3 separate regions of the Homo sapiens genome follow, and all the other regions are reported to be linked to region 2. The links are microRNA targets in miRTarBase. Many come from high-throughput screens and were not tested one by one. Region 2 holds a microRNA gene; each other region holds the end of a gene's coding sequence.
The links. Region 2 holds the annotated microRNA hsa-miR-101-3p (UACAGUACUGUGAUAACUGAA, at 1,923-1,943, shown strand). A microRNA usually pairs through its seed, bases 2 to 8, with sites in the 3' UTR of a target mRNA and lowers its output. Matches are read on the target gene's strand: a 7mer-m8 pairs with bases 2 to 8, a 7mer-A1 pairs with bases 2 to 7 and ends in A, and an 8mer does both.

Region 1 (4,237 bases), not on the chromosome of region 2:
GCCCGTCCCAGTCCCCGCCCTCAAGCGGCGCTGGGTCTCTGTGTCATGTCTCAGGCTGGTGTCCGTCCACGAGAGCGGCTGGAAGGCCTTCGACGTGACCGAGGCCGTGAACTTCTGGCAGCAGCTGAGCCGGCCCCGGCAGCCGCTGCTGCTACAGGTGTCGGTGCAGAGGGAGCATCTGGGCCCGCTGGCGTCCGGCGCCCACAAGCTGGTCCGCTTTGCCTCGCAGGGGGCGCCAGCCGGGCTTGGGGAGCCCCAGCTGGAGCTGCACACCCTGGACCTTGGGGACTATGGGTAGGTGCTGAGGGTCAAACTGGTAAGCCGGAATAAAGAGACAGGCAATTACATTTATTTTGAAATGGACAACTTTTCAGAGTGCTGTGGGAATGAATGAGACAATGTATACAATTCTTCCTCTGACTCTTAGGAGATCCTCAGTAAATATCGGTTATTAATTTTCAAGTTATTTCTAGCTGTCCATCCTATATCACAAACATCCAGCTTTTTGAAGTTGAGAGGTGGATCATAAATCTCCATCCCAGACGCCCTCTGACCTCAGCCCTCCCAGCTGACCGCTGACCCTGCTCTCTTTGCCCACACAGAGCTCAGGGCGACTGTGACCCTGAAGCACCAATGACCGAGGGCACCCGCTGCTGCCGCCAGGAGATGTACATTGACCTGCAGGGGATGAAGTGGGCCGAGAACTGGGTGCTGGAGCCCCCGGGCTTCCTGGCTTATGAGTGTGTGGGCACCTGCCGGCAGCCCCCGGAGGCCCTGGCCTTCAAGTGGCCGTTTCTGGGGCCTCGACAGTGCATCGCCTCGGAGACTGACTCGCTGCCCATGATCGTCAGCATCAAGGAGGGAGGCAGGACCAGGCCCCAGGTGGTCAGCCTGCCCAACATGAGGGTGCAGAAGTGCAGCTGTGCCTCGGATGGTGCGCTCGTGCCAAGGAGGCTCCAGCCATAGGCGCCTAGTGTAGCCATCGAGGGACTTGACTTGTGTGTGTTTCTGAAGTGTTCGAGGGTACCAGGAGAGCTGGCGATGACTGAACTGCTGATGGACAAATGCTCTGTGCTCTCTAGTGAGCCCTGAATTTGCTTCCTCTGACAAGTTACCTCACCTAATTTTTGCTTCTCAGGAATGAGAATCTTTGGCCACTGGAGAGCCCTTGCTCAGTTTTCTCTATTCTTATTATTCACTGCACTATATTCTAAGCACTTACATGTGGAGATACTGTAACCTGAGGGCAGAAAGCCCAATGTGTCATTGTTTACTTGTCCTGTCACTGGATCTGGGCTAAAGTCCTCCACCACCACTCTGGACCTAAGACCTGGGGTTAAGTGTGGGTTGTGCATCCCCAATCCAGATAATAAAGACTTTGTAAAACATGAATAAAACACATTTTATTCTATAATTTTGTAATTTTCTATTTTATTTTAATTAATTAATTATTTTTGAGACAGAGTCTCACTCTGTCACCCAGGCGGGAGTGCAGTGGCCCAATCTCGGCTCACTGCAGCCTCTGCCTTCCAGGTTCAAGCGATTCTCATGCCTCAGCATCTTGAGTAACTGGGATTACAGGCATGTACCACCACGCCAAGCTAATTTTTTGTATTTTTATTATTATTATTATTGAGACAGCTCTGTCGCCCAGGCTGGAGTACAGATGGCGCTATGTTGGCTCACTGCAAGCTCTGCCTCCCGGGTTCACACCATTCTCCTGCCTCAGCCTCCCGAGTAGCTGGGACTACAGGTGCCTGCCACCATGCCTGGCTAATTTTTTGTATTTTTTAGTAGAGACAGGGTTTCACTGTGTTAACCAGGATGGTCTCAACCTCCTGACCTCGTGATCCGCCTGCCTCGGCCTCCCAAAGTGCTGGGATTACAGGCGTGAGCCACTGCACCTGGCCTAATTTTTTGTATTTTTAGTAGAGATGGGGTTTTGCCATGTTGCCCAGGCTGGTCTGGAACTCCTGACCTCAAGTCATTCGGCAGCCTCAGTCTCCCAAAGGGCTGGGATTACAGGCACAAGCCACTGTGCCCGGCTGTAATTTTCCATTTTAATCAAAGCTCTGCAAATTGAGGAAGGAGCAGAAAGTTCTACAGCGATTAGGTCAACCTGATTGTAAAACTAAGGAAGGAGCTTGAGTTGGCCAAGACTTGGTAAAGATCTTGGTTAGGTAATACATGAAACTAGGATTAAAATGCTTTCAGGGCCAGCACGATGGCTCACTTCTGTAATCCCAGCACTTTGGGAGGCCGAGGTGGGCGGATCACTTGAGGCCAGGAGTTCAAGACCAGCCTGGCCAACATGGTGAGAGTGCATTTCTACTAAAAATACAAAAATTAGCTGGGCATGGTGGTGTGCGCCTATAATTCCAGCCACTCGGGAGGCTGAGGCATGAGAATCGCTTAAACCCAAGAGGCGGAGGTTGCAGTAAGCTGAGATCACACTACTGCACTCCAGCCTGGGCAATAGAGTGAGATTCTGTCTCAAAAATAAAATAAATAAAAATAAAATGCATTCTGATTCTAGAATCTATGGTACCTGCCCTCCCAGAATTGATACAGAAATTTCTTTTTTTTTTTTTTTGAGACGGAGTCGCCCAGGCTGGAGTACAGTGGCAGGAGTGCAGTGGCGCGATCTCCGCTTACTGCAAGCTCCGCCTCATGGGTTCACGCCATTCTCCTGCCTTAGCCTCCCGAGTAGCTGGGACTACAGGTGCCCGCCACCACGCCCGGCTAATTTTTTTGTATTTTTAGTAGAGATGGGGTTTCACCATGTTAGCCAGGATGGTCTCTATCTCCTGACCTTGTGATCCGCCCACCTCGGCCTCCCAAAGTGCTGGGATTACAGGCATGAGCCACCGCGCCCGGCCAATACTGAAATTTTTTTGTTCTTGACACTTTGACTTTCCTGGGCATAGTGACTGGGCTTTATTCCAATCCTACTTGCATCAAAATAAAATCTGTGATCAAAATTATCATCTATACTTAGAGAAGAAAATAAAGCTTCAGAGGATCTGGAATTTATAGCTGTAAGAGCTGTGCAGCTGGGCGCGGTGGCTCACGTCTATAATCCTGAGGATCACCTGAGGTTGGGAGTTTGAGACCAGCCTGACCAACATAGAGAAACCCCGTCTCTACTAAAAGTACAAAATTAGCCGGGTGTGGTGGCACATGCCTATAATCCCAGCTACTTGGGAGGCTGAGGCAGGAGAATCGCTTGAAGCCAGGAGGTGGAGGTTGCAGTGAGCTGAGATCACACCACTGTACTACAGCCTGGGCGACAGAGTGAGACTGTGTCTCAATAAGTAAATAATTAATTAAAAATTAAAAAATAAAATAGTGATTTTACAAGCACTTCACACAACTGACATAACAAAGGCTGTGGCTATCTCAACTCACATATCGATCCATCAAGGCCTTCTCTTGATTTTGAAATAACCTTAACCTACTCAAGAACAAATTTAGAAATCCTTTCTCTCTCTGAAATCTTTGTCAGTGGCTCCAGCATTCTAATTACCAAGACCGGAACCTTGCACTTGCCTGGACCCATGGCACAGACCAGACAGGTGGGGGCACCATTCATTGAGGAAGGAAGGAGGACAGGCAGGTGCGGGAGTGGGGAGTGGAAGAAAGATTGGACAGGGACAGTCTAAGGAGCCAACGGGGAGTCCAGGGGCCACACCCAGGACTCTGCAGACCGTCAGATGTGGAGGTAAGAGAGCAGGGAGGGGGGATGGCCAGGCGCAGCTATGGAGGGACAAGGGCAGAGATGATACTGGCGGGGGGCATAGAGGAAAAACCCTGGAAAATAACTAGTGGCTAGAGCTTTGGGGAGAGAAGGGGAAAGACAGATGGGACAGAAAAGAACTGAGAGAGGCAGGAAGAGACCCTCCCCACCCCACTCCTGGACAGCCACAGACTGGCGCTAGAATCAGGGACAGGGAGGTAAGGAGGAATTTTTTTTTTTTTTTTTTTTTTTTTGAGACAGAGTTTCGCTCTTGTTGCCCAGGCTGGAGTTCAATGGTGAAATCTCAGCTCACCGCAACCTCCGCCTCCCAGGTTCAAGCGATTCTCCTGCCTCAGACTCCCTAGTAGCTGGGATTACAGGCATGTGCCACCACACCCGGCTAATTTTGTATTTTTAGTAGAGACGGGGTTTCTCCATGCGGGTCAGGCTGGTCTCGAACTCCAGACCTAAGGTGATCCGCCCACCTCGGCCTCCCAAAGT
Region 2 (4,237 bases):
TATTTCCTACCCTACATGCCTTAAAAAGGAGGCAGGGGCAGTTGTAGCCATATGAACCACACTGCTGGCCACCTATCCTGTTCAGTCTAGCCTTGGATAGTAACGTGCCTTGGTCAGACTGGATTTCTAATTTTGACCTGTGCAAAATATGTAGAAATTCAAGGTCATCCTTCTTTGACTATGTACAATATGTTTTAAAGTTATTCCAGAAAGAATGATCAGAAAGCGTGTTTGTATGCTTATGTATGCGTCTAGTGGAGGCAAAACAGTTAAAATGGCTGAGAAAATGAAAAACAAAAGAAGAAAGGCAACCTAAGCAGTTGTACCTCAGGAGAAAGTGTTTGAAGAGAAGTCTGTTCTGCTTGTTAATTTGGAAGAAAGGGAAGGAAAAGGGGGTGGAAGGCATAATTTTATACATAAGTAGTAAGAATAAAGGGATCTAACCTTAACAAGTCTTCAGTTTTAAGGAACTCAGGAAGAGATAAAGGAGAGAAGTTAATAGAGTATGGCAAGCAGTTTCCTGAATGTATTTGAATAAGTGTAAAAGTAAGGCCATGAAAAGGCCGTTTCATGTCAGATAGACTGTGTTGTTCTGTGACAGATTCAATAAATATGAGCGTCATCCACTTAACCCTTGGAATTAACTCTACATCTTCTAGAACTGATTAAGATTTTTTTTTTTTTGCATATACTCAATAAAGATGATGTCCTCCTGCTGCTGCTTTAATGATAAAGGGAAAGTTTCATTTTTTTTTTTTTTTACTAGATTCACTTAAGAAGATTTGAATCTGATAGTCTCATTCTGATAGTCTCAACTATTACAGTTGCTCTAATTAACTGTTAGTTTAACCCTCTACAGTTAGTTGATACAATGATTACTCTTATAAGACCTGTATTCTGTTTTATTGTTGCTTGAACTTTGGATTTTGATATTATGAGTGTATGTTTCTGGTTTTTTTTTTCCTCCTCTCTTTTGTTGGCTTTCCATTTTCTGGTTTGTACAATTATTAATTTGTGTTTACAGGGTGGATGCGTAGACTCGACCAACCAAAGCCTGGCGCTACTACTCATGACCCTTGGACAGCAGGATGTTTCCAAAGTCCTGCTAGGCCCTCTCTCTCCCTACACGTAAGTTATTCTTTTTCAACCTCGTTATTCTGTCCAGTGTAATTTTCTCATTGCCCAAAATGACAAAGGGTGTTGTGCTGCACAGAGCCTGCACTATGAACACCTGCTTGTGTTTATCCTCAAATCAGCCAGCAGTTGTCACTCTTAACCTGGTGTTTATTTTTACATACAAGGATTTTTGCATTTCTTTCCTTCCTTAATCCCAGGTAACTGAAATTGCATGATCTCTATTGGGCAGTTATTTTGTTCGTGCTTTAGATTTTGTTTCCAGGTTAGAGGTAAACTCCTGGTTTGGTGTAGCTTGGATTTTATTACTAGTTTTTTTTTAATCATTCTTTTCCTTAGCTGTCTAACTTGCTGTGGGAAAACAGGCTTTTTGTCTAAGATGATAGGATATGAGCTCACTGGGAAAGATGACAAAAGACAGAGTTTGTATTAATGCTACTGGACTAGTAGGGAATTGTAGAAGTGAGTTTGGATTGTTGAATGTTAGCAGAAGTTGACTGCTGTGGTGTAAAAGCAAGCACTCTTCAAAAAGAACAGTGTCAGAAGACTTGAATTATAAATGACACTGTGAAAGAAGCATTTCCTATTGATAGTAAATGAGGTTGCGGAAAACAGCCTATTTGAGTACTGACATTGTGTGTGTGTGTTTTCACGTGCTTGCATACTTGGAGATCATCATATGGCCCATCTGAGGTTGGTGAGCTGGGTGGCAGGGAATATTCAGGTAGATATGAGACTGAACTGTCCTTTTTCGGTTATCATGGTACCGATGCTGTATATCTGAAAGGTACAGTACTGTGATAACTGAAGAATGGTGGTGCCATCACATTGAGAAAGGGTTGAGGACTGCGGTGGGGCTATGCACCCTTGGGCCATGGCGTTGGGGGCATGAAAACCAGGAGCTTGAAATAAATTCTTATGGAGGCTTTTTTTTTTCTTTTTTTTTTTTTTTTTGGAATTCGTGGTGGGAGGTTTTTTTAGAACAGGAAAATGGAAGAGAATACATTCTGTTAGCAGAGAGGGAAGACTGATAAGCAGGAAACTGGTAAGGACCACATTATCTCCTGATAGCTTGTGTAAAAGTATTTCGTAGGACAGGATACCTAAAATTGAGTAATCCTAAATGGCGTGGTAACATCAGTAGTAAACAATGCTAAAATAGACTTGGTAGTTAAGTACTTGGAGAGGAGATGAGGGCTGGAAGAATGGCACCCTAGGTACAGAGACTCGCTTCCTGTAGAGAGCTCACTGGAGGCGGCTGCCAGCTGTGTGGCCACTGTGGCCCCACCGGCTTTGTAGCTGGGCTCGTAGCTGCCGTTTCCCAGCCCTTGCTTCAGGCCTGGGGAAGTCCTGCTTGCACACACGGTATGAGGTATGGGGTGTTGTCTTGAATGTGTGTGGTCCTGGGGCATGGGGTTTGGCAGAACATTCTGTGAAAATGGAATACATATATGTTTTTTTTCGTGACACTTTTTTTCTTTTGCTTTTGGAGATTTTTCAATTTGGCTCCAGGACCTGTATGATGTTTTCAAGCTTTGCAGAGATGCTCAAGATATGACTGGACATTTTTGAAAGTTCCTGTGTCCTCTTCAACACATCTTCTCACCAAACATTAATTGTAGTGTCTTTTCTTCCAGAAAACTTGCATAAAATGACTTCCTCTCCTGTGAAAACAGTGTCCTGCTCTGAATGGAGCTTTAAAGGAGTAGCACAAATTGTAAGATGATGTATCTTGAGGCTGGGGCTTAGAGATATTCTGCTGCCTCCCAGAGCTTTGTGCAGACGGGTCTGCCAGGGTGGGAAAGGGAAGCCTCCGTTCTTTTTGGTAAGCTAGCATAAAGACAGGTAAGGGAGTCTATTTTCAAGAAAGCTGGATCTGTTTCATACTCTTTCTGCCCCTAATCACTATGGACAGCTCCAGCAGCACAAAGAGATGAAGGGCAAAGGCAGGATGCAGCAGGCAAAGTTAACATTGTATTTGTGAGTACAGTTGAGGATAAAAAAGGGATGAAATCCACGGTGAGGACCATCATGGTGGGGGAATAGTTTATTCTAATGGATTCAAGAGCTTTGGAGACCAAACTAACACATTTATTTTTATGTGTAGTTAAAGTCATAGAAACCTGTTTTGTGAAACCTCAGATTTCTAAAGAAAACCAGAAGCAAGACCTTCCTTGGTTTAAAAAAAAAAAAGCATTTCTTCAAGCAGTTTGGACCTGTTTTTCGTGTGTATAAAACAGCTTTTTAAATGTCTATGTAAAGAGCATTGGGATTGCTGTTGGTGGTTTTCTGTGCTACTTGAGAAAGTAAGTCTGTATGTGTGAAACTCTTTTTTTTTTTTTGAGACAGAGTTTCGCTCTGTCGCCCAGGCTAGAGGGCAGAGGCGCAATCTCCGCCCACTGCAAGCTCCGCCTCCCGGGTTCAACGCCATTCTCCTACCTCAGCCTCCCGAGTAGCTGGGACTACAGGCACCCGCCACCGTGCCTGGCTAATTTTTTGTATTTTTAGTAGAGACGGGGTTTCACCATGTTAGCCAGGATGGTCTCGATCTCCTGACCTCGTGGTCCACCCGCCTTGGCCTCCCAAAGTGCTGGGATTGCAGGCCTGAGCCACCAAGTCCGGCCAATGTGAAACTCTTTTAGAAAGGCCCAAGAGATTTTTTTTCAGTAGAATAAAATACTGTTGGATAATCACTGGTATATGAAGATTCTATTTCTGTTAAATTTGTTGAGTTTTAGGTGGCTTACAGTTAGTGACAGTAGTTGCACCCTCCATTCAACAAGCTTAATTTTACAGTTTAGGGAGGGAGGATTTATACTTTTGGATTAACAGCAAGAAAAATAGCAAAAATTAAGATGCATCTTAATTAGCACTTTCAGAAATTATTTGTGGAATGAGACTGCAGTTACCAGAGCTCTCTGCATTCTGCCAGTGCACAAGTCTTGGAGTCCAGCCTATCTGGACTTAAGGCTCTACCACGCGCTACCAGGAGACCGTGGAAATGGTATTTAGCATCTTGGAGCCTTGGTGTCATTTGTAGATAAGGTGCGTGGTCCTGAAGTCCTGGACTTGTGGAGATGGAACGAAGCTTAGATTAAGTCAG
Region 3 (4,237 bases), not on the chromosome of region 2:
CAAGTGTGCACACACCCTGCTGAGCTGTGACAATGCCCAGCTTCGGCTCCAACCCCACTCTGAGATCTGGCTCCCGAGGGTGCACAGTGCGGATACCCAGGTCCTGTGCCTGGGAAGGCGAGTCTCCCACCTGCTCCATGGACGTGCAGGCGGCTCTGGCCATGCCTCCTCGCAGTCTGGGGTAGGGGTTCAGGTTCCTTGCTGGGCCCATGCTGGCATCTGAGGCAAGAGTGACGTCACCACAAGTTCTTCCTGTGGTCCCAGTGCTCAGGGGTGGCCTAGGGCTCTCCCTTGCCTGGCTCACAGCCCTGCCCAGCAGGAGTGCCTCCAGGAGCGGATTGCAGGCCCTGGGCCTGGTCCTAGGGAGCATCAGGCTCAGAGGTCACCCCGCTATGAGGCAGACCCTGGGGATCCGGCCCTGGGAAATCCTGCGCAGAGCCTCCTCCCAAGGCGCAGGAATCCGGCGCCAGTCAGCAGGAAGGGTGCGGTGGCCGTGCCACTGGCTGTGTCCCCAAAGTGAGCACCGCTCCCACTTCCCACTCCAGGCCCCCAAAGGACAGCCCCAGCTCCGCACCCCAGGCGCGGCCCCCGTGCTCCATGTGCAAGCATGGCACCACCCCGGGCCCAGCTCCGCCTGTGGCCCTTCTCTGCCTGGTCCTCCATGCACAATCACGCTGCTCCCCCGCCGGCAGGCAACTCAACCTGGCCACATTGCGGCGGCCCCCCGGGAGACAGGCTCCAGGGGTATCCCTGCAGCAGGCTCCAGGGACTCTCCGCCCTCCTGGCAACAGCAAGCAACAGTGGTGGTAACGCGGACCAGGGTCCAGAGCAGTGGTGGCTCCAGGCCTGGAGGCAGGCCCCACTCGGCCACACAGGGGTGGGGGCGGCGCAGTCGGCTGCCACAGGGACACGGGGCACAGGGAACGTGGGGCACAGGGGTCTCACCATCACCACGGCTGCTCCTGCAGCCACCACTCACACCTCCCTGCTACGGCCGGCACAATGGCAGCAGCCACTCCAGACGGCCCACTGCTGCCATCACTAGGTACCAATGTGTTTCCATCACTATTTCCCTCATGCTGACACCTTCCTGTGGAGGTGTCATTTTCTAATAAGCAATATTTTCCCACATCAGCTGGGATTCATAACATTTTGAAAAACAAATTACAATTTGAAGGTGGGGGACACCTTTTTATGGACATTACACTTTACTAAATATTTCCCTGGGTTTCTCTATAACTAAAAATAAAAACTATAAGGAGATACAAAATTTCTTAAGTGATCATAACTGGAAAGCAAAATTGCAGAAGCTACTGATTTTCTTGCTTACTCTAATTTTTCTATGATGATCATGCATTGCTTTGTGTATTAATTTGTCTTCACACTGCTGTAAAGAACTACCTGAGACTGGGTAACATATAAAGAAAAGAGGTTTGACTCACAGTTCCGCATGGCTGGGGAGGCCTCACAAAACTTCATCATGGCAGAAGGTGAAGGGAAAGCAAAGCACATCTTAACACGGTGGCAGGAAAGTGAGCGAGCAAGGGGGTAAATGCCAAACACTTTTAAACCATCAGACCTCGTGCAAACTCATGAAAACAGCATGGGGGAAACCATCCCCCATGATCCAACCACCTCCCACCAGGTACCTCCCTCAACACGTAGGGATTACAATTTGAGATGAGATTTGGGTGGGTGGGGACACAGAGCCAAACCGTCTATCATTTTGCATGATTTTTAGCATTCTAAGATCAAAAAGAAAAACATCACTTTCAAAGTACATGAATGATACCAATAATAGAAAAGAATATGACATTTTATTTTCACTTATGGACATACAGTACATGAATTTAGAAATAAAATCGTCGCAGGATTCTGAAATACTGATACCTTAAGATCTAACACACTGATATTAGTCCATTCCCTACAAAGCAGCCACATTAGCAGTTCAGATTTGGTCTTTGTTGTAGCTGTTGACATTAAGTTCTTTAAGTGAAATGCCCAGCAGCATTTAAATAATATTTTACAGCAGACATGAACTAAGTTTCAATATTCCATCTTTGGAACAAATTATGCTTATTTACATGTTAACAGGTGGCTATATTTACTTACCCTATTGTGAGTTTAATGACTGATTTTAAACTACAGAGGGTTTTCCAGCTATTATTTCCTTTAGTTTCTAAAAGTAACGACTTATATTAATGTTTTATAAAAGATAGTGATGAAAAAAAGGTAATGCTGAAATAAAGGCGCTTTTAGAAATATTTAAGGACAACATAAGGTATTAATATTGGAAAAAAACTGTACATATTTTCAAGCACAACACTGAAATATTGCAGCAGTGTTTAACTGAATTATTTAAAATAGTGGTAATTATACTACCTTACATACCGTTCTAATATTTAAATCTCTTAATTACAATTTGAATATACAATCTGACTTACAATTAGAACTATGCACAGTTTCCGAAGCATATTTTTCAGGTTTGTTTTTGCACAAAAATTAACGTTTAAGTTGGTCCTTGATTTGGAGTACTATAACTACCTGGAAGCACTAAGTTTTAGACACATTCATTGATAGCCAACAAAATCCTTGACAGAGTGAAAAACATCAAGAGTACCATGCGTGAAAAAGCAGCTGTTACCCTCCAAGTGCAATATGAAATCTAGAACAAGACCCTCTCAGAGGCCTGCGTGTCTCAATGAGTGACCCTCAAAGAAACCAAAATGTATAGGAGGAAGTAGCTGACCAGTCATGGGCATCTTCCACATTGGGATAATCTTTAAAACAGAGGCAGCTTTGGACCTCTAGCGTAAGAGATAGACTTTACATTCTTTGATTTTATTTACACTTTTTTAAAAAGATAAAGTATATCTGAATTCTCTCATCACACCTAAACTGCTGGTGCACTGGCAGTTCAAGCTGATTAAAGTCATGAGGCAGCCCACCAGAGACTTTAAAGAACCCCAGACCTCATCCTCCTCTTTCCTATCATGAAGTCACAGACTGTCTCATCAAACTACTTGATGTCTGTAAGAGACTTACATTTTATAAACACAGTTAGCTTATTACTGAACTTTTAAGAAAAGTCCAAAGATGTGTGGAAAAGTATGCCTGCTAATAGTGACCGCTTCTACAATGACAATAATGAAACTGAGCTACAAAAATAATTTTGCTGTTTTAAATAATGAAAGGAGCTAGGTTTTTAAAATATATTACTTATTCTGCAACAGCTAATTAAATTGACAATCAATAGAATACAATGAACAGATTCAGCTTCCATTCTGCAAGCTGAATTCAGGTTATATTTTAATTACAGAATAGCTTCAAATTATAAATCTAACTGTCCCAATAGTAAAGAGACCATCAAGGCAGTAACATCAGATCAATTCTGTCATCATCCTGCATGGAGCACAAGATGTGCTTTTGGATAAAGGCATTAAAAAGACCTTGGGCTGATGTGGAAAGCGGGTCAGTAAAGACTCCAGTTCTGCACAATGGAATCTTCCAAGCCAAGCCGCTTTCCACAAATACAAATTCAGTCTATCTTTTCTTTCTGGACCAGTCTGGGAGCATCGACAAAATCTTTGCCATTGTAAAGAATGATAAAAAATGTTCCAATGCTTGCAACTCCCCAGAAGAGCACATAGGCCAGTGTTTCTGTCCAAGTGTCACCTGTTGATATTAAGAAACAAAAAGCTAAATAAGTCGTTTGTTGATATCAGACCCAGTTTTCAGCTGTTTAGCACATTTTGGCAACATTAAAGTTTACTAGCACATTCACAGGAAAAATATAAGAACCTCTTAATTAAGGTTTAAACCAGTGGTTCTCAAACCCTGGCTAGTACCAGAATCTTCTGCAGGGCTTGATAAAGCATCAACTGTTGGGCCCCAGGAATCTGCATTCTAGCAAGTTCCTAGTACCCAGGTGATGCTGATGCTACCGATCAAGAGGCTACACTTTGAGAACCACTGGACTAAATGATTTCATATTATATTATACAAATAATAATGATCACTTTTAGTATATTTTAATAATACAAATAACTATTAAGTTTAATTCATAGTTCTATAACAGATATGAGCTATTGTCAAAACACCTGCACAAAAAATTAATAGAATATTCATAAATACCAAACATAAGTTATACATAACTTTTCTGAAGTTATGTATATTTTGTAGAGTATTTTTTGCATATACACAAATATATAAAACAAAAGTCAATAACATTTTCTTT

Region 1: the mRNA of LEFTY1 is a reported target of hsa-miR-101-3p. Seed matches in the 3' UTR shown: 7mer-A1 at 1,232-1,238.
Region 3: miRTarBase lists SACM1L as a target of hsa-miR-101-3p. Seed matches in the 3' UTR shown: 8mer at 1,837-1,844.

Annotation. Positions count from the first base shown.
Region 1 is chr1:225,883,456-225,887,692 of GRCh38, reverse strand. It overlaps LEFTY1 (left-right determination factor 1), which reads left to right. Exons shown (of 4, transcript NM_020997.4): 3 at 55-294; 4 at 603-1,411. The coding sequence ends at 966. Among named protein-coding and RNA genes, the nearest start is that of TMEM63A, 3.2 kb to the right of the region's middle. RefSeq lists an enhancer at 1-548.
Region 2 is chr9:4,848,423-4,852,659 of GRCh38, forward strand. It overlaps MIR101-2 (microRNA 101-2), which reads left to right and starts at 1,875; the gene lies at 1,875-1,953. RCL1 (RNA terminal phosphate cyclase like 1) reads left to right here. Exons shown (of 9, transcript NM_005772.5): 8 at 1,025-1,128. LOC124902113 (a long non-coding RNA gene) reads left to right here and starts at 1,945. Exons shown (of 2, transcript XR_007061402.1): 1 at 1,945-4,237.
Region 3 is chr3:45,742,971-45,747,207 of GRCh38, reverse strand. It overlaps SACM1L (SAC1 like phosphatidylinositide phosphatase), which reads right to left. Exons shown (of 20, transcript NM_014016.5): 20 at 1,799-3,675. The coding sequence ends at 3,539. Among named protein-coding and RNA genes, the nearest start is that of SLC6A20, 51 kb to the left of the region's middle.